Regions from separate parts of the Homo sapiens genome. Here region 1 is linked to region 2. The links come from fine-mapping of genetic effects on gene expression. A gene starts in region 2. The other region holds a variant in brackets. All regions are shown on one strand. Distances are from middle to middle. Region 1 has its middle 30 kb from the start of SNORA48B. Region 2 holds the start of MXRA5 (matrix remodeling associated 5).

The links. PIP is the estimated chance that this variant, and not a neighbour inherited with it, causes the effect.
Region 1: its variant is fine-mapped to the expression of MXRA5 in lung (TOPMed, PIP 0.94).

What each region holds. Positions count from the first base shown.
Region 1 is chrX:3,495,851-3,508,341 of GRCh38, reverse strand. No RefSeq gene overlaps it. Among named protein-coding and RNA genes, the nearest start is that of SNORA48B, 30 kb to the left of the region's middle. The variant A/G (reference allele first, on the strand shown) is at 6,395.
Region 2 is chrX:3,341,091-3,353,581 of GRCh38, reverse strand. It overlaps MXRA5 (matrix remodeling associated 5), which reads left to right and starts at 6,930. Exons shown (of 7, transcript NM_015419.4): 1 at 6,930-7,067; 2 at 9,721-9,936. The coding sequence starts at 9,749.

The DNA.
Region 1 (12,491 bases), 150 kb before region 2:
TTACCCAGTCTCGGGTATGTCTTTATCAGCAGTGTGAAAACGGACTAATACAAACAGACACTGGGGCCTGGAAGGTAGAGGATGAGGACGAGGGGGAGGATCAGGACAAATAACTAATGGGTACTAGGCTTAATAGCAGGGTGACAAAATAATCTGTACAACAAACCCCTGTGACACAAGTTTACCCAAATAACAAACCTGCACATGCACCCCTGAACTTAAAATTAAGCAAGGAAAAAAAAAAGGAAATAAGGACTTGCCAGATATAACGAATTTGCAGTAAGTTGACGTCTTACTGGACTAGGGTGGACCATAAATCCAATGATAGGTGTCCTTATAAGAAGAGTAGAAAAGACAGACACACAGAGAGGGGAAGTTCTTGGAACTGCAGAGGCAGACACTGGAGGATGCCACCCCAAGCAAACAAACACCAGGGATTGCCAACAAACATGCAAACTGAGAAGGAGGCAAAGGATTTTTCCCTTGAGCTTTGAGAGACAGCATGGTTCCACTTTCACCTCGCTTTCTGACTTGCATCCCCTCAAACTGAAAGGGAATAAATTTGTTGTTGCAAGCCACCTGCTTTGCCGTAATGTGTTATGGTGGCACAGGAAACTCCTAAAGCTCCTTTCGCAGAAATTCTCTGCCTGCACTCCCTACCTCCATGGATCTTTGCCAAATATAACATTTTCTTTAGTCCTGACACACAAGAGAATATCATCTGTCCACATTCATCCTGGTCATTCATGAGCTGTGATAGTTTTGCACAGGCTCTTTTCCTTTGCGTGGGAGACCTTGCCTCTCTCTCTCTTTTTCTCTCCCTCTCTCCCTCCTACACCCCTGCCCCTACTTCTGGCAAACAATGACCCATTGTTTGAGATCTTGGTTAAAGGCTCACTCTCTGGGGGCACCTTTCCTAAGAGTTACCCAGCCCTTACTCTGTACTTCATGACACCTCCTGTGACACCCATGGGTGAATTGTTGGTTTCTGAGGCTGTTTCTCTCGAGCCCAGGAACTACATCTTCAGGATGTGTATCCCTAGTAATAATCACAGTACATATCATATAGTACATTTTCTATCCCTTGTATATGGGGATATAATCCTAGTACCTGTCATATAGTAGATTTTATATGCCTAGTATGTAGGGCTATAATCCTAGTGCCCATCACGTAGTAGATTTTATATGCCTGGCATATAGGGATATAATCCCAGTACCTGTCATACAGTGGATTTTCCATCCCTACCATATAGGGATATAATTCTAGTACCCGTGACACAGTCGATTTTCTATCCCCAGTATATAGGGAGATAATGCCAGTACCCATCACATAGTCAATTTTATGTCCCCAGTATATAGGCATATTATCCCAATCCCTGTCATAGAGTCGATTTTCTATCCCCACCATATAAGGATAGAATCCCAGTACCCGTCACACAGTCGATTTTACATCTCTCGCACATAGGGATATAATCACAGTACCTGTAACATAGTAGATATTATATCCCTAGTATTTAGGGATAGAATCCCAGTACCCATTGCATAGTCGATTTTCTATCCCTAGTAGATGGGGATATAATCACAGTATCCATCACATAGTAGATACTATATCCTTGGCATGTAGGGATAGAATCCTAGTACCTGTCATATAGTAGATTTTCTATTCCTAGCATATAGGGATATAATCTCAGTACCCATCCCAGAGTCGATTTGATATCCCCAATGTATAGGGATATTATTCCAGTACCCATCACAGAGTCGATTTTAGATCCCTAGTATACAGGAATATAATCCCGGTACCTGTCATATAGTAGATATCATATCCCTAGTATATAGGGATATAATTTTAGCATCCATTATATAGTAGATATTATGTCCCTAATATACAGGATATAATCATGGTACCTGTGATATAGTAGATGTTTCATATAGACTCATTTTTCAAAAGGAGGGGATTTTCAAAAATTAATTTTTTAATTGATAAATAAAAATGGTGTATATTTATGAGGCACAACTTTTTTTTTTTTTTTTTTTTTTTTGCTTTTATTTGAGACAGGGTCTCTCTCTGTCACCCAGGCTGGAGTGCAGTGGTGTCGTCATAGCTCACTGCAGCCTTGACCTTCTGGGCTCAAGCAATCCTCCTGCCCCAGCCTTCCCAGTAGCTGGGACTACAGTCCTGCGCCACCATGCCTGGTTAATTTTTTAAATTTATTGTAAAGATGGGGGTCTCACTATATTGCCCAGGCTGGTCTGAACTTCTGGCCTCAAGTAATCCTCCAGCCTGGGACTCCTAAATGCTGAGATTAGAGGTGTGAGCCACCGCATGAACTCAGTAACGTCATGATGCTTTGATATGTGTTTCCACTGAAAAATGGCCAAATGACACTAGTTAACATAAACATCACCTCACCAACTTCTCATTTTTTGGTGGAGAGAACGTTTAAAATCTACTCTTTTAGCAATTTTTAAGTATGTGATCCATTGTTGTTTATTTTAGTCATCATGTGGTATAATAGAACCCCTGAACTTATCCTTCCTCTCATATAGACTTATTTAATAAGGAAATGTACTCCAGGTGTATTTAATAGAGAAATACACCCCAGAACCACTTTTGACCAAAGAATTATCAATATATTCACTGTATGGTTTTAAACTTTGTAGAATATCTCCAGATAAAATCTATCTTTGTATTCATTCTTGAATCAGATATAGGAAAACACCATACACAATACGAAGATAGTTGGCTAAATAAATAAATAAGGCAACACAGCGAGACCTCATCTCTACCAAAAAATACAAAAATGAGCTGGGTGTGGTGGTGCACATCTGCAGTCCCAGCTACTCAGGAGGCTGAGGTGAGAGGATTGCTTGAGCCCGGGAAGTCGAGGCTGCAGTAAGCCATGATCACACCACTGCATTCCAACCTAAGCTATGGAGCGAGACTTGACCTAAAAACAAACAAACAAAAATCAATGATCTGAAAAGATCTGTGTTTTTTCAGGCTCCAGGCAGATTAGACCTATCTTCTGACCTTTTTTTTTCCCTAGGAAGATAAGGCAAGGAAATTTAAAAAAAAAAAATTCAAGGATACTTACAAATGGCAAAGGAAGGATACAGAATAAATGAGTTTTGTCCAATGTGTGTCTTTCCCCATCAACAGTAAAATAAATCAGTGTTATGTGAAAAACCCAATCTTACCCAATCTACTCTATGGGGCCAAACTTGAAATTCCAAAATTCTGACCTCATTTGTAGTTCTGAACATACGGGAAACTCTTCACGCAGAATCTACCAGGGACAAAGTAAAAACACACAAAAAATCATGATGTGATTCACTCAAAAATTGACAATTACCGGTGTTGGCCCCCTTGATCTGTATAAGCAACATGACAGCCCATTTTGCAACATAAATTCTCACCATGCACCAACCTACAAGAGAAAATACTACATCCTGTTAGAAGTACCCCCCGCCTACCCCCTGCTCCCTGGCCCAAGATGGAGTCTTGCTCTTTGGCTCAGGCTGGAGTGCTGTGGTGTGATCTCGGCTCACTGCAACCTCCACCTCCCGGGTTCAAGCAATTCTCCTGCCTCAGCCTCCTGAGTAGCTGGGATTACAGGCACCCACACAATGCCCAACTAATTTTTGTACTTTTAGTAGAGACTGGGTTTCAACGTGTTGGCCAGGCTGGTTTTGAACTGGCTGGTCTTGAACTCCTGACCCTGTGATCCGCCTGCCTCGGCCTCCCAACGTGTTGGGATTACAGGTGTGAGCCACTGCAACTGGCCCTGTTAGAAGTTTTATAGAAAGTGGACTGCTGGTGGTGTTTGGTCTGCATGTTGTTCAATTAGGTACCATTGGATAAAGGAGCAGAAAATCAAAGCAACTATTAATAAGAGTTGTAATAATAATATACTGGATTCTTCTTTTTGAAAATGAGACTGGGTCTCCGTCTATCACCCAGGCTGGAGTGCAGTGAACTCTTGCTTCTCCTTGCCTTCTGCCATGATTCTGAGGCCTCCCCAGCCATGTGGAACTATAAGTCCCTTAAACCTCTTTCTTTTGTAAATTGCCCAGTCTTGGGTATGTCTTTATCAGCAGCATGAAAACGAACTAATATACTTTATTTTAATCTTTCTCTCTTTATATACATATCTCCTGTTGGTTCTGTTTCTCCAGAGAACCCTGACTAATACATAGCCCACACAAGGCAAAACAAGCAATGACACCACATAGTACAACAAAACACTTGAAACCGCACCTCGAGATCACCAAGAGAGCAAACCATCCCAGACACCTCATTGGGTGGTTCTGTGTAGATACCACTCAAACAAGGCAAAACATGCCACGGCACAACACAACACAATGCCCAGAACCAACCTGGTTCCAGGACAGAGTTTTTATTTTTTATTTTTTATATTTCCATAGATTTTTGGGGAACAGGTGGTGTTTGGTTACATGAGCAAGTTCTTTAGTGGTGATTTGTGAGATTTTGATGCACCCATCACCCAAGCAGTGTCCACTGCACCCTATTTGTAGTCTTTTATCCCTCGCTCCCCTTCCAGCCTTCCTCCCAAGTCCCCAAAGTCCATTGTGTCACTCTTATGCCTTCGAATCCTCATAGCTTAGCTCCCGCTTATGTGTGAGAATACGACGATTGGTTTTCCATTCCCGAATTACTTCACTTAGAATAATACGACGTTTGGTTAAACACATACGATGTTTGGTTTTCCATTCCTGAGTTACTTCATTTAGAATAATAGTCTCCAATCTCATCCAGGCCGCTGCAAATGCCGTTAATTCATTCCTTTTTATGGCTGAGTAGTATTTCACTGTATATATATGCCAGGGTTTCTTCATCCACTCGTTGATTGATGGGCATTTGGGTTGGTTCCACGATTTTGCAATTGTGAGTTGTGCTGCTATAAACATGCGTGTGCAAGCATCTTTTTCAAATAATGATTTTCTTTTCCTCTGGGTAGATACCCAGTAGTGGGATTGCTGGATCAAATCGTAGTTCTACTTTTAGCTCTTTAAGGAATCTCCACACTGTTTTCCATAGTGGCGGTACTAGTTTACATCCCACCAGCAGTTTAGAAGTGTTCCTGTTCACCACATCTACTGTTTTTTGAGTTTTTGATTATGGCCATTCTTGCAGGAGTAAGGTGGTATTGCATTGTGGTTTTGATTTGCATTTCCCTGGTCATTAGTGATATTGAGCATTTTTTCATATGTTTGTTGGCCATATGTATATCTTCTTTTGAGAATTGTCTATTCATGTCCTTAGCCCACTTTTTGATGGGATTGTTTGTTTTGTTCTTTCTGATTTGTTTGAGTTCGTTGTAGATTCTGGATATTAGTCCTTTGTTAGATGTATAGATTGGGAAGGTTTTCTCCCACCCTGTGGGTTGTCTGTTTACCTTGCTGACTGTTCCTTTTGCCAGGCAAAAGCGCTTTAGTTTAATTAAGTCCCACATATTTATCTTTGTCTTTATTGCATTTGCTTTTGGGTTCTTGATCATGACATCCTTGCCTAAGCCAATGTCAAGAAGGGTTTTTCCAATGTTATCTTCTAGAATTTTTATAGTTTTAGGTCTTAGATTTAATCCCTTGATCCATCTTGAGCTGATTTTTGTATAAGATGAGAGATGAGGATCCAGTTTCATTCTCCTGCATGTGGCTAGCCAATTATCCCAGCACCCTTTGTTGAAAAGGGTGAGGACAAAGTTAATTCACATGATCTCGGTGACAGAGTTGAACCATTTCTGTAATATTTAGCCCACTGCAAAACTGGAGGGCGCCATGTCTGAACATGTCTTTGATTTCCCGCATCTGAGCAAAGCCCACTGCACACGTGTATGAGATTTTTCTGGCAGTCCCTTTTTGTACAATATTCTAAATACCTGTGGTTTCTTAACTAGGAGGTCAAGACAAATGACTTTTGTTAAGAAGGGAGTCGAAACCTCAGACGCTGAGCTGAGTTTTTCAGGCTATGACATCAGGTCTCGGACTGACAGCAGCATCATGAGACTGGCGGAGGCTGATAATCCATGCAACTAAAAAAAATTCCTTAACGTTTTATTTTTTCCCCCTGAGATTTTTTTTTTGCATTCGTCACAGCTCAAACAACTCAACAGGTGCTCATTTTGGAAATGAGCAGGGAAGCAGTCGCTTTTCGCCAGGTGAGGATCTCTGTGGCGAATGCAACTCCCCGGAGGCACAGCTCTGCCGAGGCATTTCTGAGAACCCTGGACATGTTTTCCCGCTTGTTCTGGGAGTCTCATTGGTTTGGTCATGCAGCAAGCTCTGTGGGCGGTGGTGCAGGCTGTCTGCATTCTTCACGACAGCCGCCTGGGTTTTGTTGCTATTGCCTAGCAATCCGACAGGACAGCTGCAC[A/G]CTTCATTAATTTGCTTCATCCATCCATATGCCTCCATCTCGCACATTTATGATTCAGAAATGAAAGCAAGTGTGACCTTCCTGCGATGTTTTTCCTTAGGCGTGGTTGTCTTGCGGCCCCTGACATCCTCATGGATTTGCCCTGCTACTTTCTACCCGGCTGTCTGTTCCCAAGGTGTTGCACCCTGATGACAAACCTGACCCAACGAGGCAGACTTCATGCAAAGTCTCCATGAAATTCCAGTCTCCCGGCAGCTCTATGCCACCCAGAACCATGGGAGAGGCCCAGCTTGTTCCCAGCACTTCCTTCTGCTGGATCCTCATGCTGTTTCCTTGCTCCACTCGGAATTTTCAAAGATGCCTAAGTAGATAATGATGTCTGGAAAATGCTGTTTCTCATCCATCCATATTGATCGAGTGGTTTTCAATTTGGGAAATATAAACAACCTCCCTACTCACCCCTCATCCTATTCTTTTCTGAACTCAGGAGAATGATTTTTCCTTTTCTTTTTTTTGAGACAGAGTCTCACTCTATCACCCAGACTGGAGTGCAGTGGCACGATCTCAGCTCACTGCAGCCTCTGTCTTCTGGGTTCAAGTGATTCTCTTGCCTCAGCCTCTCTAGTAGCTGGGATTACAGGTATGCACTGCCACGCCTAGCTAATTTTTGTATTTTTAGTAGAGATGGGGTTTCGCCATGTTGACCAGGCTGGTCTCGAGCTCCTGACCTCAGGTGATCCACCCGCCTCAGCCTCCCAAAGTGCTGGGATTACAGGCATAAGCTACCGTGTCAAGCCAAGAATAATTTTTTTCAACAAAATTTTATTACCTTTTATTTTTTAAAAATAGAATTTATATTTTAGAGGAGTTTTAGGTTTACAGCAAAATTGAGAGTATGGTACAGAGATTTCGCATATAGTCCCTGCTCCCCTACCTCAACCTCCCCCATTATCAATATCCCCACCAGAGTGGTGCATTTGTTGTAATGAACCAACATGGACACATCATTATTGATATGGTTTGTCTCTGTGTCCACACCCAAATCTCATGTTGAATTATAATCCCCAGTGTTGGGGGAGGGACCTGATGGGAGGTGATTGGATCATGGGGGTGGATTTTCCCCTTGCTGTTCTCGTAGTAGTGAGTGAGTTCTCATGAGATCTGGTTGTTTGAAAAATGTATACCTCCTCCTCACTACAGTCTCTCTCTCCTGCTCCTTTATATGAAGATGTGCCTGCGTCCCCATTCGCCTTCTGCTCTGCCATGATTGTAAGTTTCCTGAGGCCTCCCCAGCCATGCTTCCTAAACAGCCTGCAGAACTGTGAGTCAATTAAACCTCTTTCCTCTGTAAATTAGCCATCTCTGGTATGTCTTTATAGCAGCATGAGAACAAACTGATACAATTATCACCAGAGTTCATAGTTCACATAGGGCTCACCCTTGGTGTTGTACATTCTAAGGGTTTGGACAAACGTATAATGGCATGGATCCAGCATCCTAGTACCACACAGAGTAGTTTCACTCCCCTAAAAATCCTCTGCATTCTCTCTCCCACTCTCAAGACCTGCCAATCACTGATTTTCTTTTTCACCGTCTCCATAGTTTTGTCTTCTCCAGAATGTCATAGAGTTGGAATCATACGGCATGCAGCCTTTCAGATACCCTTTCAGATGCATGGTACCCTTCACTTAGTACCATGCATCTAAAATTTCTCCATGACTTTTCATGACTTGATAGCTCATTTCATTTTAGTGTTTGTGAAAGAGAAAGAAATCTTGGGGCCCCCAAATCACTAAGCTAACGGTAAAATTCAAGCTGGGAACTGCTTAGGGCCAACCTGCCTCCTATTCTATCCAAAGTGCCCCCTCCGCTTACTGAGATAAATGCATATCTGATTGCCTCCTTTGGAGAAGCTATCAGAAACTCACAAGAATACAACCATTTGTCTCTTAACTACCTATGACTTGGAAGCCTCCTCACCCGCTTGGAGTCTTCCCACCTTTGCTTCGAGTTGTCCCATGTTTCTGGACTGAACCAATGTGCGTCTTACGCATATTGATTGATGTCTCATATCTCCCTAAAATGTAGAAAACCAAGCTATGTCACGACCACTTTGTGCACATGTTGTCAGGACCTCCTGAGCCTGTGTCACGGGGATCTGTCCTCAACCTTAGCAAAATAAACTTTCTAAATTAACTGAGACCTCTCTCAAATTTTCGAGGTTCACATGCTGAATAATATTCTATGATCAGGTTGTATCATCCTTTATTTATCCATTCACTGCCTGAAGCACATCTTTGTAACCTCCAAGTTTTATCCACCCCCATAATCTAATCACCCCCCACCAGGTCCCTCCCCAACATTGGGGATTACAATTCAACATGAGGTTTGGGCAGAGACACAGAGACAAACCATATCAATAATGATGTGTCTATGTAGGTTCCTTAGAACAAACGTACCTCTCCGGTGGGGATATTGATAATGGGGGAAGTTGGGGTAAGGGAGCAGGGACTATATGAGAAATCTCTGTACCTTTTTCTCAATTTTTCTGTAAACCCAAAACTCCTCTAAAATATAAACACTATTTTCTTAAATAAAGGGAAATACAATTTTGTTGAAATAGTTTTGATAATTGCGACTAAAGCTGCCATATAAACATTTGTGTGCACAGGTTTGTGTGGACATACATTTTCAACTCCTTTGGTACCACATACTAAGGAGTGAGATTGCTGGATCGATTGGTGATAGTGTGTATGCATTTAAGCTTCCTTTTCCATGTACTTTTAAGATTATAGTATCCCCTGAGTTTCAGAGGACAAGGAAAAGAGCAAGTTGTGCATGCGCCCATCTATAGAAATGCTTTTAAACATTTTAGGATCTACCACGTTCTTATTTTGCTTTCCCTGAAGTCACCTCCCCCAGCTATCATCAACCAAAAATCACTTTGCTCTTGTACTTAAATTTTTTAGTTTTTATTTTAGGAGACGGGGTTTTGCTCTGTTGCCCAGGCAGGGGTGCAGTGGCACCATGATAGCTCACTTCAGCCTTGACCTCCCTGGGCTCAAGTGATCCTCCCACCTCAGCCTCCTGAGTAGCTGGGATTATGGGTGTGTTGCAGCACGCTGACTATTTTATTTTATTTTGTTTATTTTAGAGATGGGGTTCTCACTGTGTTGTGAGGCTGGTGTTGAACTCCTGTCTTAAATCAATCCTCTCTCATTAGCCTCCCAAAGCACTGGGATTATAGCTGTGGGCCACCATGCCCAGCTCTTCGTACACTTACATTTCTAAAGACTCATATGTTCCAAATGTGGCAGCTAGGCAGACATGCATACGTGCAAATATTTATATGCCGTCATCACCCACAACGTCTCACCTCACTCCACGATTATTTCTCAATGTCTAGCCTCTTCATAAAATATACAGGAATGGGGACTCACCCAAGTCACTGTTTTGGAAATGTTCTGTAAGTGTTAGAAAGCATGCCTTGCCAGTACCCATTCTTCCAGGCTCAGCTCACAAAATCCCCTCATCTCTTCCAAGAACCCGCCCTGGACTCACCCTACTGGCAGATGCTGCTTTTCTGTGTTCCCACGGTCTGCTGGCTCAAACCTGACATATGCCACCTCCATTACAAAACACAACAATGTCTACGAACCATGGAACCATTTGGGGAAGGAATTCTTGGGAGTCATTCTAAGTGTCCTGGGGTCTGAGAAAATGGCGTATCGACCAACGTCCAACACTCTCAGATAATGGCAGAATCCTAACGGTAACTTGGTCACAGGGTGTGCAAATTGGACTGTAAACAGCTTCAGCCATCTGATGATACCTAATATCTTCCTTGGCTCCTTGACCTGGGGATGATGGAATGCCACTTGCTTTCTGAGAACAAATGGGCTCAAATGGCAACAAGAGAACAACCAGGCAATATGTGAAAGATTTTCACAGTGGTTGACAAAGAGAAAAAAAGCAAGATGAGGCCAGGGCCAATGGTCATGCCTGTAATCCCAGCACTTTGGGAGGCCAAGGCAGGAGAATCACTTGAAGCGGGGGTTCGAGACCAGCCTGGGCAACACAGCAAGACCCTGTTTCTAAAAAAATACAAAAATTGGCTGGGCATGGTGGTGTGTGCCTGTAGTCCCAGCTAGTCAGGAGGCTGAGGTGGGAGGATTGCTTGAGCCCAGGAGGTTGAGGCTGCAGTGGGCTATGATTTCACCACTGAACTGCAGCTTGGGTGACAGAGTGAGACCCTGTCTCTAAGAAAAAGGCAAGATGCAAATGGTGGTTCATGTAACGCTCTCAAACCTGAACATGCTCTCGAATGAGTCTGATGCAGTAAGTCCTGAGCAGGACCTGGGAAATTCCATTTCTAGCTGCACTCCAGGTGAAGTGTTGCTGCTTGACCTTTTCAATGGCAAGTTCCTGTAGATCTGGGGTGTTGTCCAACATCATACCCCTAGACGCCTGTGGATAATTACATTCAAATTTAAAGGATTTAAAATAAAATAGGAATAAGAATTCACTTCCATCTGTACACCTAGTATGTACCCACAAATATTAAAATTAAAAATTAAATAATAGAATCACTTCCATGGTCTCACTAGCTGCATTTCAGTGCTCAGTAGTCCCAAATGGCTAGAGGCTACCACCTTGGCAGCCCAGGATAGAACATTTCCATTATTACAGAAAATTATACGAGAATTTGCTAATGTAGAGTTCTGGCTATCACCCAGGAACATTCAATGACAAGGAAGTAAAAGTAATTTGGAATTGCTCTTTTTTGCTTATAAGGTTCTGATCCATGCAAATTTCTGTGCAACTGGTATAACACTCTTCACAGTCAGGGCACAAATATACATACTTCCTTCATTATGTGCAGCTCTGTGGATATTCTTAAAAGCCCTGAAATAAAAGAAACCTTAAATTAAACAATTCCTAAAATTGCCATGTTTCTGAACACATTTGTGCCTGTATGCCCATATTCTATACGCATGATAACTATAAAAGTCTACAAATATTGATGTATACATACTCACATATTTTCATCTTTTCTCACAATTATTTTTACAGTCTTTCAATGAGCAAAGGTCAAAAAGTGTAGGGCTTTCTAACAGAGGAACTATGAGAGCTGAGTAACCCAGTGACAATTTGGCCAATCACACTAGAAAATCAGAAATGCATGTTGCCACCAGAGAACGCCGTCATTTTAGATGCGCAAGGTTGATCCCATTCAGAATCCCGGAGTAATGCTCACCAATAGAAAAAAGGCAGCACAGGATTTTATTGGCTTAACACAATCATAGTTTATTTTTCCTACTTTACTAGCCCTTTGCAAGTGTTCTTGCTTGGGTAGATTTTCTCCAAGTGGTGAGTGAGAGACTCAGGTTTATTGCCAAATTGGTACTCTGCCATCTCCAACACCTGCCTTGCAAGGTATCCCTGTTTTTGTTTGTTGATTTTTTTGGCCACTGTTTCAGTTTTATCAACTCCAAGGAAAAAGCTCATGGAAGCTCACCCGTGGGAGATTTCCATGGGACACACGCTTATACTCACATTTCCTTGGCCAGAACTCAACCAAACACACACTGAATTCCAGGAGCAGATGGAAAATGTGGTCAGGCTCTAAAGAGGGAAAAACTGGTTTGGTGTCAGCGAGCAGCATGTAATTATGGCTAAATCTGTCTGCTAATGTACATGTCAAACAATGAGAACATTCACCCACTGCTGCTGGGACCATAAATCAGTACAACCATATTGGAGATCCCTTTGGCACCATCCTTTAAATCAGAACACGACCCACCAATTCCCCTCGCTGGTATACACTTTAGAGGAACTCTTGCATACTCTTGTACATAGATAAGCATGGCCTTAGCAGAAATGTTTGTAACGGTAAAACCCTGCAACAACTCAGATGTTCACCGTCAGGGGGATGGATCTGTAAAGTGTGAAATAGTTACATAGTGAAAGATTGTACAAAGGCAAAACGAATAAACTAAATCTATGTGCAGAGTCATGGCTGAATCTCAGAAATTTCAAATTGTTGGAAGGGAAAAAATACAGACTATGCAGTGTGCTCCCAGTGAATATGATTCAA
Region 2 (12,491 bases):
GCTTCCCATCCTGAGCTCTACCTCCTGTCAGATCAGCAGCAGCATTAGATTCTTACTGGAGCAGAAACCCTATTGTGAGCTGCACATACGAGGGATCTAGGCTGCAGGCTCCTTATGAGAATCTAATGCCTGATGATTTGTCACTGTCTCTCCCATCACCCCCAGATGGGACTGTCTAGCTGCACAGAACAAGCATGGGGCTCCCATAGATTCTACATCATGGTGAGTTGTAGAATTATTTCATTATATATTACAGTAGAATAATAATATAAATAAAGTGCACAATAAATGTAATGTGCTTGAATCATCCCAAAACCATATGTCCCACCCCCATCCTGCTCTACGGAAAAACTGTCTTCCATGAAATTGGTCCCTGGTGCCAAAAAGATCAGGGACCGCTGCCCTAGGAGATTTCTAGACCATGCCACTTGAGGGCAAGGTCTCCACCAGCCAGTAGTGCTCAGAACTAGTTTCAGTGACATTCTTTCCTTCTTCCTCACAAGCTTCTAGGGCAGCTTCCATGTGGAATCCCCTAGAAGCCATTTGGTTTTTATTCCAAGAGGCCGCTTGTCTGAAAGAAGACAAGTCAGCAAAAATGTAAGCCAAAACAGATGGGAGGAAAAAAAAGAGTCTTGACTCTTTAAATATAGAATTTTTAAAACTAGACTTTATTTTTAGAGCAGTCTGAGCTGCAAAATTGAGCAGAAGGCACAGAAATTTTTATATATCCCTTTCCTACACACACACACACCCCCTCTTCCATGATCAATAGCTCTCAGCAGAGTGAGACATTTGTTACAACAGATGAACTCACACGGAGACATCGAAGTCACCCAAAGTCCGTAGTTTTCATTAGGGTTCCCTCTTGATGTGAACTCCAGAATCGTGAGTATTCATCATTTATAGAACATCTTTCTGAAATGAATAGTTTCATGTTGAAAATGTGCCATTTTTATTTTGAAAAGTGAGATGGGCCGAGTGTGGTGGCTCATGCCTATAACCCCAGCACTTTGGGAGGGCGAGATGGATGGATGACCTGAGGTCAGGAATTTGAGATCAGCCTGGCCAACATGGTGAAACCCCATCTCTACTAAAAATACAAAAATTAGCAAGGCGTGGTGGTGCGCACCTGCAGTGCCAGCTACTCGGGAGTCTGAGGCAGGAGAATCGCTTGAACCCGGGAGGTGGAGGCTGCAGCGTGCCAGGATTCCATCACTGCACTCCAGCCTGGACAACAGAGTGAGACTTCATCCCCCCACAAAAAAGTGAGCTAGGTCTCGATTTCTGCGATTTCTGCTGAATGACCCATCCAGGATTGAGGTCTTTGAAGGGATTCATTAATAATTGCTGACATTCCCTTGCCTTTCCCTGTCTGCAATTCACTGGCCTGTGTGGTCTGGGTTGGGGAGGAAGGGGATAACCTTCCATGATCTCATCTTCTGCAGCTGTTTTCTACCGACTGAAATTTTAGGGATCCAGAGCGGAGAAGCCTGTGTCTGTGAGTTCCACCGTTCTAGGTGCCGCTGGTCCCGGTAAGACACAGTAGTAGATAAACAGCTTTCATTTTGCCGAGAAATCCCCATCAGCACATCTGCCCAAGCTGGGTCAGGCTAGTTCACTTCTCCACGATGTGTTTTCTCTGTAGGTTGATATGCACCATGCTAAGCAGAATTTTCTCCAGCCTAATCTGCAGAGATAACTCAACTGTGCTCAGGAGAGCTAGAGGGTTTCTCTGACGTGTTCTTTGTATTTATTTACTTATTTTCCACGCTGCTGTTCTATTTTAAAGTATGCTGTTGAGAAAATTTGGAAGCATTTTAGTACATGCAAGAGAACAGAGTATTCCTACCGACTGTGCTATGAGGATAAGAAGCAAAACAAAAATACCCCCTCATTTTCATTGAGGTGGCCAGTAGCCCGTATTTTCATTGAAGGTTTACCCTACACAGATGAGGGCAAGTTCCCATGGAAAATTCCTAAAAGTCTGTTTCTGCTCAAATAAAGATACAACCCCACTAGCTATTAGTCTGCCCCTGAGATTTCTGAGCTATGCAAGCCCATGAGTTTGAAGTAGAGATTTCCTGTGTCGATTTTTTTTTTTCCCTCCAGTCATCCAAGGGTATTCACTAGGTCAGCCCTTCTCGTGATTACAGAGTTTGGGAAGCAGTGGGGTTTGCAGTCATGTGACTAAGAAAGTTACTTTTACAACCCTTGTTAAGAAAATTACATAGTGATCCACAGAGTCCTTTAGAATATTAGACTTTCACATTGAAATCAGAATCGCCAGGAACTGCAGTTCATACACAAAACAGCCAGTGCACCTCCAGAGACTCTGCGCTGGGGTAAAACCTGGATAGGAAGATAAAAGACACAGCAATAAAGCTGAAAAAAATGACTGTAGATTCGCTGGATCCTATATATAAATATTAACTACAGATGTGGTGCAGGTAGTATGTTCAGTTCTCTCTATACAGCATTGCATTCTGTCTTTACGCCACCTCCAAGAGGTAAAATTACCCTTATTGTACCCTTGAGAAATCTGGTTTTAGGAAGGGAGAATAGTGTGTTCTAGGCCCTCTGGCCAAGAAATAGCGAGTAGTAGGAGGAGGTGGTTTGAGCTCTACTATCTGTCTGACTCGATCACCTATGGCTCTGCTGTTGGTTAAAGCCTTGCAAGAAAAGTGGATTTTAAAGATCTTATGACGGAGGCAGAGGGATGATGGCTCCCCAGTGGTAAGGGCCTCCTGGGTCTCCTGGGCTGCAAGTTTCCCTACCTCCACATTTCTAGAGGAAAGGGGGTCTCGATGGAGGATCAGGGTTGCGTGATGGGAAGTGAGCTAGCAAACCTGTTTGGATTTCCTTCTGAATGCTCTATTTTATATATATATATATATATATATATATATATATATTCACAGATGTCTTTTGTAGATCAAAGACAAAACAGGCAAATGTTGATAATAAGGACATGTTGTCAAAATGCTGGTTCAGGAAGAGAAATGCTGCTAACCAGAGGAACAGTGAAAAGCAGTGGCTGGTAAAAGTCACTGGTGCATCCTGCAACAAGCTGCAATCCTTCAGGTTCCATGGCATCTGGCGATTAGGAGGGCTCCGGCCTTTTGTTAATCACTGAGCTTTTGCTTGAAGTACATTCTGTAGCTACAAGGACTGACCTGCCCTTCATTTGATCATCCCTCCTCACCCTCCACATGGTGGAATTATTAGCAAGCAGATGAATTTAATTTAACCGACATGTACTCCAAACCTCTTGTATTTAAGGAACTCTCTTGGCACTTCAAGGGATTCAACAATTAATCAAACATGGTCCCTGCTCTGGGAACACATCACCAAGCAAGCAGGCAACATTAGCAGGACAAACATCAAAACAAAAAAGACTAAATGCAGCAAACTATGCATTTTATTTAAAAAAAGTACAGAATGACGAGATTCCATAATGCTTTATTTGTGGATTTATTGTACAAGTTACGCCCTGGGACTTTTCTAATCTAGGCATTTATTTTTATTAGTATGTGTGTTATTAAAAATAATTTATTGAGGTGAAATTCACATCGTAAAGTAAACCATGTTAAAGTAACAATGTCATGGCATTTCGTACATCCTCAATATTGTGCAACCATCACCTACATGTAGTTCCAAAACGTTTCTGTCACCCTAAGCTAAAACCCTGCTCCCATTCAGCGGTCTCTTTCCGCTGCTCACTCCCCTTCATCCCATGCATGAAATTTGCAAAGCAGAATTGAATTAGTTGACTTGATATTTTATTTACTTCACACTTGTAAGGAATTAAAGCCATTATGTTTGAGTTAACCATCTCATTTCCGTAAACCTGTGCCTTTAACTAGACTTCGATAAATCATTTTTGGGGTGCAGATTGTACAGGTAACACAAGTATTTAGAGGTATTGATAGATATTATCTATTAAATGTGCCAATAATAATCCCCCTGGATAAGGTAGTATAAACAGATTTCCTTACTGCAGAGAAATCCAGACTTTTTTAAATGTTTTTTTTTTTTGAGGCAGGGTCTTGCTCTGTCACTGTGGCTGGAGTGCAGTGGTGCGAACTTGGCTCACTGCAAACTCTGCCTCTCAGGCTCAAGCAATTCTCCCATGTCAGCCCCCAGTATGTAGCTGGAACTACAGGCATATGCCACTATGCCTGGCTAATTTTTTTTTTTTTTTTTTGTAGAGATAGGGTTTTGCCAGGTTGCCTAGGCTGGTCTCAAACTCCTGGACTCAAGCAATCCTCCCGCCTTGGCCTCCCAAAGTGCTGGGATTACAGGCGTGAGCCACTGCGCCTGGCCAAATCTAGACATTTCTTAATAGAATTCAACGTCAGTCATGCGCACATTCATTCATTCATTCATTCAATTGAACGCTTAGTGTATGCTAAGCTCTGTGCTATACTCCAGGTGTCAAGAAGCTATGACGGCATAAAAAGAAGGTGAGTGATTGTCCACAATGCAGGAAAAAAGCCCACTTTAGCAATGGGCATGGAGGTAAGGAAATACTATACAATGGAGATTGAGGAGAACTTTGTCAAAACAGTGGCGTGAACCAACAACAACAAAAATCAGGGATGTGCTACTTGTTCTTGACAAGCCAGATCTATCACCAAAAGGAAGATCCCAGGGACAGGCTGGGAAGCACAGGGCATGGCACAGGCCACCCATGGAAAACTTCAGCCTTGGGTTTGAGGATGATGGCATCCCTCTAAGTCTCAGTGATGGGCTGGAAGGGATGAATGAGAAGGAGTTGGTGGAGGAAGAAGTTGTCAAAATCTAAGACATATCCATGCAACCGCAGTGAGAGAGGTGGAGAGAAGAACACGTTGGGCCAAGAGATTCTTAGGCATCAGGATCTAAACTTGGCAACCAGTTGACTATGAGGAAGACATGAAGGAGAGGCAGAAGGCAAGGATGGCTTGAGTTTCTAGTTTAGCTGACGAGATGGGTGGCAACATCATTAACAAGGGTAAAGAGATGTTCAAGAGACAGTTGTTTTTTGTTTTGTTTTGTTTCGTGATTTAATCAATGGGTTTGGGGCATGCCCAGAAAGAGGCTACCTAAGGGCATTATTTGACTAATCCCTGGAACTATGTCAACACACACTGAAAACTAAAGCTAGAGAAGGAATGAATTCCCATTTATGAACCAGTATTTCCTGACTATCAACTCTGTGGAAGCCACCCTAGGCGCAGGAGGCAGGTGGTGAGGAATTCCTAGACGCTGTGTTTCTTAGGAGGAGCTAAGATGAACCACGCTTCATGCAGGGGAAGCAACTTGTTTCTTAGGCTTAGTCCTTCCTTCCTCCTGAAAGCCCCCTGACAGAGTGCTGGACGTAGGGCAGGACTTCTGAATCTAAAGAGCAGGCACTTCTCAATTATACTTTCTCCATGCATTGCCTTTTAAAAGCTGCATGCCTGCTGGGCTGGGTGGCTCACGCCTGTAATCCCAGCACTTTGGGAGTCCGAGGTGGATGGATCACTTGAGGCTAGGAATTCGAGTCCAGCCTGAGCAACATAGTGAGACCCTGTCCGCACCAAAAAAAAAAAATTAGCCCAGCGTGGTGGCGCAAGCCTCTAGTACCAGCTGCATGGGGGACGGAGGTGGAGAATCGCTTGCGCCTCGGAGGCAGAGGTTACAGTAAGCCGAGATCGCACCACTGGCACTCCAGCCTGGGCAACAGAGCGAGACTCTGTCTCAAATACATAGATACATATATACATACATACACACATACATAAATGCCGCACGCCATCAGCCTGCTTCAGGGGCATCTCAGCAGACAGGATTCGTTGTACAAGTACATGGTACCACTGGGCTTGTAAAAAAAATTTTTTTTATACTCACAGATGTCTTTTGTAGATCAAAGAACACAACAGGCAAACACTGACCCTAAGGACATGTCAAAATGCTGGTTCAGGGAGAGGAATACGGCTAACCAGAGGTATAGCGAAAAGCAGTCGCTGGTGCACCCTACAACAAGCTGGTGCAATGGTGCCTTTCCGGGCCCTACACACCTGTCTGAGCTCCATGTTTTTACCCCAGGTTGGCTCTGCTGACTGAAGATACTCGCCTGACCTCTCCCCACCATTCCAGGTCTGACTTATCCAGGAAGCCAGGCAGCCGCCGCCTCCTCTTCCTCTGCCTCCTGGAATAGGGACCTACCCTCTGCACCCTCTACTTTTTGCCTTGTCGCCAGGTCGCTCCCACCCTCCCACCGCCCCCTCCCCAGACAATACCATCAGACTCTCCGAACGTCCCAACCCTCGCCTTGCCCCTCGAATGCTCCCCAAGCCGGAGGGGAGCCGTTCCACCTTTCTGGCAGGAAGACTCTGGCAAGGGGAGGGAGGCGGGCGCCGGGGAGTCCTGGAGAGGCGGGAGGGCGTGGCGGCGGCTCTCACGTTGCAGCCCTGCCTGCAGCTAGTGGGATGCCGGCGGGGCCAGCCCGCTCCTGCTTGCACACGGTCTGGGAAGAGCTGCCGAGAAAACACCGTCTGGCCCGGAGAAGCGCAAACCCTGCTCCTTCTCTCTCTCCTGAAAGGAACGGAAACGTTCCCAGCGCTGCTTAGGCGCTCTCCAAGCGCGGACTCTACTGCGGCTCCCACCGCGCTCCCTGCATCTCGCCCTTCCCTCCTGGGGTCCTGGACTTCTCTCTGACAAAGAGCCCTCCTTCCCCGAGCCGCCTGCGGTTCTTGCAGCTGGAGTGGGCGAGGCATGCCCACCCGGGCCCAGGCGCAATGAAGACGCGAGAGGAAGGCTGAGCGCAGAGCGGCGCGGCCAGGGTCCCTTGGCTCGGGCCCGCGCCCCGTCTCCCCGGGGTGGGGCAGGGTGGGGGTGTGCCGAGGCGTGGACTTGGGGAAGCCTCGCAGCGCCGGGAATAAAAGGGCGCCGGCTTGCTGTGCCGCGCTGGGAAGCCGAGCTGCCTCACCCCCGGCCCCGGGAAGGGCATGGCCCCGGCAAACTCCCGGCCGTGACTCGCGCGCCCCGGCTCGGTGGATGCTCCCGGCGCACCGCTCCCGTGTGCGGCGGCTTCCCAAGGACAGGTGAGGACCCAGGGTGGCCAGGGCGCCCCAGGGCTGCCGTGTCTGCCTGCAGGGGGTGAAGGGATTTGAGACACCCAAGGGAAACACTGGGGGTAAAGGGCCTGCATGCAGGCAGATTGCACCGTTCCCCAGCACTGTTTGAAGTTGCTAAGAAATCAGGATACCTGAATTCCTGCAATTTTAAGTAGCTAAGGATCAGATAGGGAGGAGAGCCGGATCTTGAAGGAGGATGCACTGAATAGGTCTAATTAAGCCCAGACATCCCATGCCTCCTTTCCTCCCTCTCCCCAAAGCGCTCCCCATCCCTGGCTCTCTCTGGAGACCTTCAACCCCGCCATCCCGCGTTTCTAGGAAGCTGCCAACGGAATTCCTAAGTGAAGCCCACTCTGCTCTTGCAATCGGTGGGGGAAAGGACGCTTGAGGAGCCTCTTTCCAAGTTGCTCAGGCTGTGGCTACTTCAAGTCTCCTCTCCCTCCTCTCTTCCCCCTCTCCTTCCCCGCCTCTTTCCTCCTACTCTTACCCAGGCTTTCCCTGGAAAGGGGACAGCCCAACGCCTAGAGTGATCCGAGCCATGCAAAAAAACCGGGACAGTCATCACGCAGACAAAAGGGGTTTGGTGTCCGAGTCCCGGGCGGCGGGGACTCGCAGGGCCACCCCAGCCGCGTTCCGGGAAAGCTCGTAATTCATCCCGCAGCCAGCTCGACGCGACCCAGCGGACTCTGGAAGCCGGCCAGGGGCTCAGGGCTGCCCGCCCGGCCACTCCAGGTTGTCTGCCCAGGGCCAAGACGAAAGCAGACGGCCTCACGCCCCCACCCCTGCTTCCCGGCGGGGTTCGCAGACCGTCTCTGGCGGCCTAGCTGGCGCCAGGCCGCTTTCTCCGCGGCGGAGAGACCCGACCCCGAGTCCCCGGGATTAGGGTTGTCTGGGGGCGAGTTTCCTGGGTCTCCCGGGAGGTTGGTGCCGGGGTGGGAGGCCGGACAGGGAGTTGGGGCTGAAGAGTCCTATGGAACGCCCGGGCCAAGTCCGCCCGCAGGCACAGGACGCTGGGGACTGGCGCGGCTGCCCTTGGAACCAGCCCAGCGCCGAGGTCAGGCGCGCAGGCAGGGGCGGGGAAAGCCCGGGCTCTGGCGAGAGAGAAAACTCCGAGGACTTTTGCAGAGCTGCAGGAGCCGGTTTGTTCCAGCGCCCAGAGGCGGAGCCCGGACTTGCTTTTTTGCAAAACTACCTGTGCGCCATCAGTTCTTTATGGGCAGCTGAAGGGAGACGCGCCCCCGGGCTTAAGAGAATAACCTTTTCTAGGTCACTTAAAGGCAGGAAAAGCTACAGGTTTGGGATGTTCCTCTCTTATAGGAAGGATTTTAGAATTTTATTTTTATTTTTTGAGACGGAGTTTCGCTCTTGTTGCCCAGGCTGGGGTGCAATGGCTCGATCTCGGTTCACCGGAACCTCTGCCTCCCGGATTCAAGCGAATCTCCTGCCTCAGCCTCCCGAGCAGCTGAGATTATAGGCATGCGCCACCACGCCCAGCTAATTTTGTTTTGTTTGTTTGTTTGTTTGTATTTTTAGTAGAGACGGGGTTTTTCCATGTTGGTCAGGCTGGTCTCGAACTCCTGACCTCAGGTGATCCGCCCGCCTCGGCCTCCCAAAGTGTTGGATGACAGACGTGAGCCACCGAGTCCGGCCTGGGTTTTAGAATTTTAATCAGCAGTTCGCGCTCGTTCAGAACCCGGGCGAATGGGCAGGCGCGTGTTTGTTGTGTATCCCTATTTACTTTCCATGTGTGTCACTATTTTTAAGTGAACGCCATTCAAGAGATGACAAAAATGTTAGATGACATAGGCATTGCCAGGACAAGAAGAAAATGATCACCGCCATTCTAAATGAAGTAGCTGATGCAATCTAGCTTTACCCGAGCTTTTCCATTTTTTAGTGACTCCATTTTTTTCTGTTTGCCTGAATATATTTCATAAGCAGTCCCTTCCTGTTTATTGAATGATCAGAGGTTCCCCCAAACTTCCTCCCCGATTAACAGCAACTCTATATCATCAAAAAAACTCTCTGGCTTTTCCAAGACAAAAACATAAGGATAGTAAATAAACCCAGAAATAACAGGATGAATATCCTTCTAGCAAATACCTCTTTAAGCTCTTCAAGAAGCTAGAATTAAAGGTTTGAAAAATATCATTAAAGGAAAGAATACGAATAAACACTTCTTGGGAAGTTTTAAATTCAAATATATGCAATATATAATGGCTCAGTCTTGTTGGAGGCAGAAACACAATATTTTATTATTTTTTAATTATGGATACATAAATATAAACCTCTTTCTTCTCTCTCTCTCTCTCTCTCTCTCTCTCGTCTCTCTCTGTTTCATAGCCGCAATTACAGAGTGCAAGATAGATTTCCAAATCATAGTATCGAAGCCAAGAATCAAGACTATATTCTATAGTCATGATTAAAGTGAATGGTGAAAAGTTTAGAAAAAAAACCATGTTTCATCTTTCTCAATTCCCATGGTTTAAGCGTCACTACAACACATCGTGTGAAGTCCTGGGAAGCTTGAAACCCTGATGCACAATTCAAATTTAAAAATTGCCCACAGTTCGTCGGTGCTACCTGTGAATAAGCTCATCTCTTCGTTGTTCTACCTCAGGTATCCGAGAATCAGGCACCCCGACAAGATGCCCAAGCGCGCGCACTGGGGGGCCCTCTCCGTGGTGCTGATCCTGCTTTGGGGCCATCCGCGAGTGGCGCTGGCCTGCCCGCATCCTTGTGCCTGCTACGTCCCCAGCGAGGTCCACTGCACGTTCCGATCCCTGGCTTCCGTGCCCGCTGGCATTGCTAAACACGTGGAAAGAATCAATTTGGGGTTTGTACCACTTTCTTCCCGAACCTTCCCACTGTCAGTGCGTGCGTCTTGATCTGGTTTTGCGTGTGTGTATGTGCATTTACTTAACTTCATATGTGCATTTCCTCTGTGTAGCTCTGTCGAGAATTATGGAGCTGCAGATGGGCAGAATAGAGAGAAAAAGTTTTAGTTATGCTAAACGCAGCTTTTTCGATGATTATCTCAATATATCCATCAGCTGCCACTGCTGTAAGGTCTATTAACGAGCAGCATGAACAACTTTAGAGTTTGTTGAGAAATTCCCTTGATAGCATTTCTTTAATACATTGTTGAGGTGAATGCATGAGACACACACTTAAACATATGAAGATGATTTAAGTAGACTTCAGCAACGATTTAAGAATAATAAAAATAAGCAGAACATCTGTGCCATTTTATAAGTCATGTAGATGATAGAATTGCGACTTTGAGGCAATAAAAGAGTTCCTGCAGATTTTGCCTGTTAAAAATATCAACGTCTTTTTAAAAACCTATTTTGATGTGGCTTGCCAGACAGACTTTTAATATACTGGTTTCATTTTATACACACGAGGGTTGTGTGGACCGAAGTGTTAGTTGCTATGAACTACAGGTGCTCAACTGCAATTTTAATAGTCAACAATCATTTGGAGTTCGTCAACAAAATATAATAGCTACTTTTTAGCATCCATCCCCAGAACAACTGATTAAATTAGTGTTTGTGAAATATCCACCATGGAGATGTTTTAGTAAAAATAAAATGGCCAGATTTGAGCCAATGCAAAATAACTGTAAATGTACCTGGACATCTTATAGAACAAAGTTAAAAGAAAAAACTCTCCTCCATTGACAGTGGTAGAAGAAGAGAATGAAACATTGAGATAATAAGATGGAAATTTCTCTATCGACAGTGGTAGAGTCAGGGAATGAAGTGTTGAGGGAGTAAGATGGAAACTTCCCTGTTGACAGTGGTAGAATAAGAGAATGAAACGTTGAGGGAATAAGATGATAATTTCCCTAACCCATGGCAACAGACCATTAAATAGGTTTCTCAATGAAATGCTGTTAGACTTTATGAGTTGACCATCTGAACATCCAACCACAACAATGATAGCTCATTGGGGAAAACAGCTTGGCGTTGGCAGAGGAGGGAATAGTAACACATAAGCCAGCTTCCCTTTTTACAATCTTGTAATTTATCGGACACATTTCTTGTGTAATGGAAGTAAGAAAAAGGGAAGAGGTGCTAAAGCCCATTAGTTTTGTTTATTTATTTATTTACTTAACTTTAAGTTCCAAGATACATGTGCAGAGTGTACAAGTTTGTTACATAGGTATATGTGTGCCCTGGTGGTTTGCTGCACCTATTGACCTATCCTCTATGTTCCCTCCCCTCAACCCCCACCCCCCAGCAGGCCCTGGTGTGCGTTGTTCCCCTCCCTGTGCCCATGTGTTCTCAATGTTCAACTCCCATTTATGAGTGAGAACATGCAGCGTTTGGTTTTCTCTTTCCCTTGTTAGTTCGCTGAGGATGATGGCTTCCAGCTTCATCTATATCTCTGGAAAGGACACGATTTCCTTCCTTTTTATGGCTGCATAGTATTCCATGGTGTATATGTACCACATTTTCTTGGGCATATGGGTTGGTTCCATGTCTGCTAAAGCCCATTTGAATCCTGGGGGAAGGTGCGTGTGATATTTGCAGAACAGAAAGTGGGGCTTTAACTGTAACTTCTTTTTCCTCCACCCTTGGTGTGCAAAATGGCTCTGTCTAGGAATTGTTTTTTATACATGAACCATTTTAACACATGGTCTAACTTGCTGGGATTAGCCACCTCATCTCTCAAACCCAGCACCTTGGCAGGTCCCATGCTGGGGGTACCATCAGCCAGGCCTTGGTGGAGCCCTCTAAAAAGCTTGGGGTTGATGCAGAATGTATATATTTTATATATATTATCTTTATAATATATATAATATATAATGTAAATATACATATTATATAATATATAATATATGTATACTATATTATATATTATATATATTATATATAATAATAATATATATTATATATATTATATATAATAATAATATATATTATATATATTATATATAATAATAATATATATTATATATATTATATATAATAATAATATATATTACATATATTATATATAATAATAATATATATTACATATATTATATATAATAATAATATATATTACATATATTATATATAATAATAATATATATTATATATATTATATATAATAATAATATATATTATATATACATAATATATAGTAATAATATATATAATGTAAATATACATGTTATATATAATATAATATGTATATTATATATATTAATTATATATTATATATAATTCTATTATATATTATATATATAATTATATAATTATATACATTATATATATTATTATATATTATATATAATAATTATATATTATATATATTATGTATATAATATATAATATATAATATATGTATAATATATAATATATTATGTATAATATATTATATTATATTATGTATAACATA